2 linked regions of the Homo sapiens genome follow. The protein of the gene in region 1 interacts with the protein of each later gene in a pairwise test. Each region holds a gene or a part of one and is shown in the gene's direction. Other genes may lie near its edges.

Region 1 (3,735 bases):
GAAGCATCTTATTAATAAATTTAATGGTTGAGTGTGTCTTATATAGTACCGACAAATTAGTGTAAGTATTACTTTAAAAGTGTCAAAGCAGCAAATTATATTTAAACAGGTAATAAACCAATGCAGTTACAGGTTGAACATCCCAAATCGGAAATCCACGATGCTCCAAAATCCAAAACATTTTGAGCGCCAACATGATGCTCAAAGGAAATGCTCATTGCGGTATACAAGTATGCTGCAAATATTCCAAAATCCAAGAAATCCGTAATCTGGCTAGGCGCAGTGTCTCACGACTGTTAAGTTCCAACACTTTGGGAGGCCGAGGCAGGTGGATTGCTTGAGTCCAGGAAGTCAAGGCCAGCCTGGGCAACATGGCGAAACCTTGTCTATGCAAAAAATACAAAAATTAGCCGGGCATGGTGGTGCATGCCTGTAGTCCCAGCTACTCAGGAGGCTGAGGTGGGAGGATCCCTTGAGCCTGGGAAGCAGAGGTTGCAGTGAACTGAGATCGCGAACACGCCACTGCACTCCAGTCTGGGCGACAGAGTGAGACCCTGTCTCAAATAATAATAATAACAATAATAATCCGTAATCCAAAATACTCCCGTCCCAAACATCTTGGAAAAGGGGTATTCATTCTGTATTGTCAAAATGTTCATTTCAGGATCTTAGTTAATAATGAAACGTAGAGTGATTTTCAGATCTTTTCAGACAGACTTGGAAGAGGTAACTCCTAGCCGTTCAACTTTTAATTATCTGCAGATTAAACAGGCAGAGATGAGCAGATTTTCTAATAGTGGTTTTGTTCACTCTTCAGGAGTAGGAAATTTCAGGGGACACTTCTGCTTCATAATCAGTGTAATAAAGATTCTGTGAATCAAGATTAGAACCCCATCGATAAATAGTGTGCTTCTACAATTAGGCTTTATATTGGTTTCTCTTAATTATATTGATATAACAATATATGATTAAGAATCATCCAGCATTTATGGATTGAATGCTTCTAGTGTTTATTAAGAGTTAAATGGGTTGATTTCTTTGTCAGAATCTATATTTTACGGTATTTCTAATTTCCCACCTTAAATGCTTCTGTTATTTTGCCACTTTTGGGATTCTGTTACGTAAAGCCCCTTGCTTTGTCAGTGGTTCTCTTGATCTTCATACTTCTTAGATTTTCCTTTGTCTGTTGCCAAGGATGGGTTACCTGAAGGAAGTTTTTACCAAAACACAGGTCTCGTAGCATCTCCCTCATTGCCTTTATAGTCCCTGCGGCCCGAGTTAGATTTGTTTTTCTCCTGGTAGGGGTGCAGAAAAAAGTGAAGCTAAGAGAATGAAGGTCTGTTAAAGTGGCTAGGGATCTCAGGGGGTGGATAGATGAAGCAGGAGGAATAATATTATTTAGGGCTTGGATTTCACTGTGTTTTTTAAATTAACAGGCTTTTTCAAATGTAGTAATACAAAATGTATACTGGATAAGAGGTTGAAATAGAGTTTGGGGTTATCCATTATCTACAGATAATTGACAGTTTTCCCTTTGGACTTATAAAATTATACTAAGCACAGTTATCGGTTTTTAGGGGAAATCTCATAATAAGACATTTATTCAACAAACATTTATTGAGTACTTATTAGGTGGAAGGCAGAATGTTGAAAGCTGAAGACATATAGTTGAGTGAGTCACTGTCTTTGCCATCAAAAAGCTTCTGTAGGGAAGATAGTCAAATAGCTACTGTGCAGAGTGATAAGTTATCTCATATCTAGTGTGTGGAGTTCTATGCAGTGCTCAGCTACCTGGGGAAGGTCAGCGAAGACTTTCCTAATAAGGTAACACTTGAATTGAGTCTTTTCAGGTGGTTTAGGGGAGAAGGGACTCTCCTGGAAGAGGAAATGTCATTTCAGAGCCATAGAGGGATGGAAGACAATTATATATTAATTATAAGTGGACTGTGATTGTTAGAGCACAGGATGTAGGAGGAGAAAGAAGGTTAAGGTAGGAGAAGTGGCAGAATAGGATCGTGAAGGGACTTAAAGGCCACGTACACTGCTAGAGATAGGTAGCGTCTGAAGAACTTTAAATGAGTATACTATTATGATCAGATTTGTATCTTAGAAAACTCATTGATTTTTATCAAAAATATGTACCATTGTTGGGGTAAGGTTTTGTGGGTGTAAGGTGGCCATTTAATAGACTATAGCAATAGTTCAGGAAAGAGATGACAGTGGGTGGGGGCCGATTCCAGAGATATTTAGGAAGCAAAATCTCTGGAATTGGGTGACTGAGTGGATAAAGGACATGAGGGGAAAGGAATTAAGAAGGACTACAGTACACACCAGATAGATAATAGTTGAACTTTCACAGGTTAGATTGTTGTGTTGGAGGAGAAACTTTGAATTTTTGTTTCATATATTTTTTAATCACTTGTATTTTTGTAAACAGAAAACATACATTACTATTATATACATACACGTATATATACACACGTGTGTGTATATATGTGTGTGTGTGTATATACATATATATATATATATATATTTTTTTTTTTTTTTTTTTTTTTTTTTTTGAGACCGAGTCTCGCTCTGTCACCAGGCTGGAGTGCAGTGGCACTATTTCGGCTCACTGCAAACTCTGCTTCCCGGGTTTAAGCAATTCTCCTGCCTCAACCTCCGGAGTAGCTGGGACTATAGGCACCCGCCACCACGCCCAGCTAATTGTTGTGTTTTTAGTAGAGACGGGGTTTCACCATGTTGGCCAGGATGGTCTCAAACTCCTGACCTCGTGATCCGCCCGCATCGACCTCCCAAAATGCTGGGATTACAGGCGTGAGCCACCGCGCCCGGCCTACTATTATATTTTTTTAAAGAGAAAAAGTCTCAGATTTCTGGTTACAGAACTAAGTATACATGAGGAACAAATTTAAAGAAGGAAGATAAGGAGTTCAGTTTTGGGCTTGCTGAATTTAAAGTGTCTCAGAAGACCTTCAGGTATTATCAAGAGGTAAAATCCTTTCCTAGATTTCAGGCCTGAAGGAAAAATAGCATCTGGTTCAAAGTTTTAAGTCTATGGCAGTGGAAACTAAGTCACACATCCAGGCTAGGTGCAGAACTAGGGTTAGAAGTCAGAGTCTCAACTCCTAGTTTATGGTTCTTCCTGCTGCAGGAAGAGAGTGTCTCTGGAACCTTGAGGTACCCTTCTGAGAGAATTTAGCCAATGCTTTTCCATCTGAGACTACCTTCAGTTTATTCAGCCCTTCTCAAGTCTAAACATAGGTCCTCCTAGCCTGTCAAGTTAATGGTCTTTCATAATTTTAAATGCTGTTTGGGAAATTATGATCCTGTATCAATTTTCTAGGTAAAAGAGCAATCTGCTCATTTAACCCTTCTTATAGTGTAGAAGGCAGGTTTGCGGAGGCAATGTACAATGCTTTTTGGAACCATCTGAAAGAACAGCTATTGAGTACTCCTCCTGACTTCACTTGTGCCCTTGAACTTCTAAAAGATGTTAAGGAGGTGAGTAACCAACTCCCATTCGTGGATGGGAAGTTCCTGGGCATCTCAGAACCTTGGATCGTCAATGGCTGTTAATATATCAAGTAGCATACTTTTTTTAACGTGACCTACTACTTAAATAGATAGGATGGGGCAGCTTCCATTTTATTTGTATAAGATGAAACTTGACCATTGGGCGATGACTATAACAATATATAACTCAATTAAACAAATTCTTACTGAAACCCC
Region 2 (3,719 bases), on another chromosome or scaffold:
TGAATGGTATTGCCTCCATCCTCTGAGAAGGTAAAGAGCCTATCCCAGACCCCACGAGTGGAGGCGTCAGGGAGGGGTTCTTGGCAGGAGATGGGTCTTGTAGAAAGGCTTCTGCTTTGCTTTCACTCACGGCCTGTGGCCAGTTTGCTCAGACAGCTCCCATCAGGACACCATTGGCAGCTTTTGCATGACCCTGCCTCCCAGGGTCTTCCTGCGTTTTTCCTTAAGTTGCCTTATTCTTTGGTTGTTTCCCTACTTGTTTTTGTTAGACTGTGGGAGGAAGAAATCCATTTCAAATCTGCTGAAACCTGTTACCAAGCAACAGCAGTGATTAAAAGCAACCTGATGAGTGAGTAAAGAATTAGGGTTTCAGACCTGTAGTTAATGATGGTCTCTGTCTCCCTGCTGCCCTGCATTCCCTTCCCTTCCGTTCACTGCTGGGTGAAGGAGGGCTTGCTGCATTTTGGAAGTTAAGGGAACCAATAAGGTGACTCTTTTGCAGATTGGAATATGGTGCTCAGCCAGCCATATGGAAGCACTGTCCTGGCGTGATCTGCCCTGGGCTGTTGGCTCTCTGAGTGCTGTCTTGGGAGGAGCACTGCCCTTCAGAACAGAAGAGATGGCTTCCAGTCCCCTCTCCCCCTTCTCCCAGTCTCTCTGAGGCTGCTTGTTGGGTATTGGGCGTGCTGTGTACTAACTCACTCCCGTCTCTTGTCTCATTATCTGAAATGCATCCCCTTTTGCAGAAAGGGCTCAAACGGAGCCTTCAGTTCTGCTCCTCTGCATAGCCGTAGCTCAGATCCTAGCTCAAGATGTCTTGTCTGGGAAGGGCAAAACATGGTCCCCAGTGTAGCATTTTCACTGGGTTGATTATCTCAGTGGTGGATCATCTATCACCCTTGTGTGGTGACTTTGTGAATTATCTGCCTGAGTGCCACTTCCCTTCCACCCTAATCACTGCAGGCTCAGGGAGCAAGAAATAAAATCATGAAATGCATTCCAAATAAAATTACCTTTTGGCTGGGTGCAGTGGCTCACACCTGTAATCTGAGCACTTTGGGAGGCTGAGGTGGGTGGATCGCTTGAGGTCAGGAGTTCAAGACCAGCCTGGCCAACATGGCAAAACCCCATCTCTACAAAAAATACAACAGCAAAAAAATCAGCCAGGCTAGCTGGTGTGCGCCTATAATCCCAGCTACTTGGGAGGGAGGCTGAGGCACAAGAATTGCTTGAACCCAGGAGGTGGAAGTTCAGTGAGCCGAGATCGCACCCCTGCACTCCAGCCTGAGCAACAGAGTGAGACTCTGTCTCAAAAATAAATAAAAAAAAAAATCACTTTTTGATACTTCTGTTAAAATAGATAATAAGGAACCATATCTTAAAGTGTGGAGGATCTGGCTTGGCTTCTGTTTTTGATAGCTCTATGAAAGTGACAGATTTGCATCATGAGACTTAGTGGAATGAATTGGGAAATTGAAGGGCAGCCCAGTGGCTATGGATTCTATTTTCTATGGGACTGTCTACGCCAGGCTTTATTTTCTCTTTGCTCAGATAACTTCTGACTAGAGTCGACGGTAGGATTATAAATGGTTTAAAATACGTATTCTCAAACCTCATTTTCAGCATATAAATTTTTAAGAATCAGTGTTTAAAGGTACGTGAAACCATTTGCTAGATTTTTGTCCTAGTTTTTTTTTTTTAATTTAAAAATCTTAAGTTTTTTTTAGTAAGCTTAAGATGTCCAGTAGTTTATTTGCAGACAGCATTTTTAAAAAGTGAATAGATGTTTAACTGAAGTTAAATACAAATTTATGTCTGTGTAACTCTTGGTAAGATATAACAAAACCTAGACATCTAAATTTTTTGGAAATTTTTATTTTAAAAGTTTGTTGGGAGGTAAAATTGTGTGACTTTACCTTCTGGTTAATAGTTTTATAGTTAAGAAGAAAGTCCAGCGAAGTTTACTTGATCTCAGTTGCACTCAAGAATAGGGGATTTAGTTCCACTTTGGTTATTTTCACTTCTACCCTAAATTCATAGTCCCTGATACTTAAGCTTTACCCTTGGCTTACCAGTTTTCATTGCAGCGAGTAAATGGGGAGTAGCAGAGCCTTTGTTAATGTAAATTGACAAAAAGTATGTCCTTTTCTAGCAGGAGCAGATAAACTGATAATGGTCTTAGAAATGTAGAAAATGATTTTTTGTAGACAGGATGATCTGTCTAGATTGTAGCAAATGATGGTACATATTCACAACAAAGTTGTGCCACTACATTTAATAAACAGCCACAAACAACAAAAGGACAACTGGTCCCCGATATAAATGGACTAGCTACCTGGACATAATATCCTTGTGAGGCATCCTTAAAGGACAAATTGCAGCTGGTATTTGGGTGAATGTTGTTGCTCTGTGCCTGTTGAATGTCCATGCTACAAGAAGTTATGAGCCTTGTTCTAAGTACAGATGAACCTTGTATTTGTGTAATCTCCCAAGGGAGAGCTATGGTTTACATTCAATTTTTTGGTCTTTCTGCTATGAAACGTGTTTATTTTGCCTCTGTCAATGTGTTTGCAACCTTAAGTAAGGAAAGGGAAAAAAAAAATAGCCCTCTGAACTCTGATCTTTTGCCGCTTCTGTAGATTTTGATTGTGAAGTTGGGAGTGAGGACATTCAAAAGCCCATGGTGAATGCATATGCCTTTAGAATATTGTGCCTGTTTTAAAATGTTTGAGCTTTTAAAATACGTTGTTAAAACATGAATCCATTTTTGTAATTGTATAAATACTCATAACTAATTTTGAATGCTACTGATTGTGTAACTGAATTTTTGTATCCAAAAATACATTCTTGAGTACTACTTTTCCTACCTTGAAAATCTATTTCATTTACTAAATATTGTTTTCTTTATGCTAACTTAACTTTAAAAGGAATGTTGCCAAGCTGTCTCTCCTCCCCCATCACAATTGTTAGTTTTTTTTGCTTTCTTTCTTCAATAAATGATAGCATTATGATCTTTAATAAATCTAGTGTTGTCTCTTACTCATGTCTGTATTTCCAGGAGTCTTTAAGCCAAAGGAAGACTGTAGAACTGTAAGAAAAAACCGTATCTTTAATTTGAATTCTCAGTGTGTAGCACACATTATAGGCACTTAAAGATGTTTTGGGGGACCTAACCTGACATGTAGTCCTCTCTTTTAAATGACTTAGGGTTTCACATGGGTCTAGGGACAGTTTGGAAGGTTTTTAAAAAGTAAGACATTTCCTTAAGTGTTTATTTTGGAAAAAAAATACACACACACATACATACATACATACATACATACAAACAAATAAATATATATATTTTTGAGATGGAGTCTCACTCTGCTGCCCAGGCTGGAATGCAGTGGTGTGTTCTTGGCTCACTGCAACCTCGGCCTCCCAGGTTCAAGTGATTCTTGTGCCTCAGCCTCCGAAGTAGCTGGGATTACAGTAGCGCACCACACCCAGCTAATTTTTGTATTTTTAGTAGAGACGAGGTTTCACCATGTTGGCCAGGCTGGTCCTGAACTCCTGACCTCAGGTGATCCACCTGCCTCAGCTTCCCAAAGTGCTGGGATTATAGACCTGAGCCACTGTGCCTGGCCTATTTTGGTATATTCCTACACACCTAGCTGGTTTAGTTATTTTGTGTAAAGTAGGTTGTCTAATTGGTGTAAAGTTGTTCATGATGTTTCCCT

What was found. The genes of interacting proteins can lie anywhere in the genome.
Region 2: the proteins of TCP11X2 (region 1) and SFT2D2 interact in a two-hybrid assay, tested with the Homo sapiens proteins (one large-scale study listed by BioGRID).

What each region holds. Positions count from the first base shown.
Region 1 is NC_000023.11:102,465,221-102,468,955, reverse strand, and holds part of TCP11X2 (T-complex protein 11-like X-linked protein 2), read left to right. Parts: intron 1-3,386; coding exon 3,387-3,507; intron 3,508-3,735.
Region 2 is NC_000001.11:168,250,004-168,253,722, forward strand, and holds the end of SFT2D2 (vesicle transport protein SFT2B), read left to right. Parts: 3' UTR 1-3,018; downstream 3,019-3,719. UniProt on the Homo sapiens protein: May be involved in fusion of retrograde transport vesicles derived from an endocytic compartment with the Golgi complex.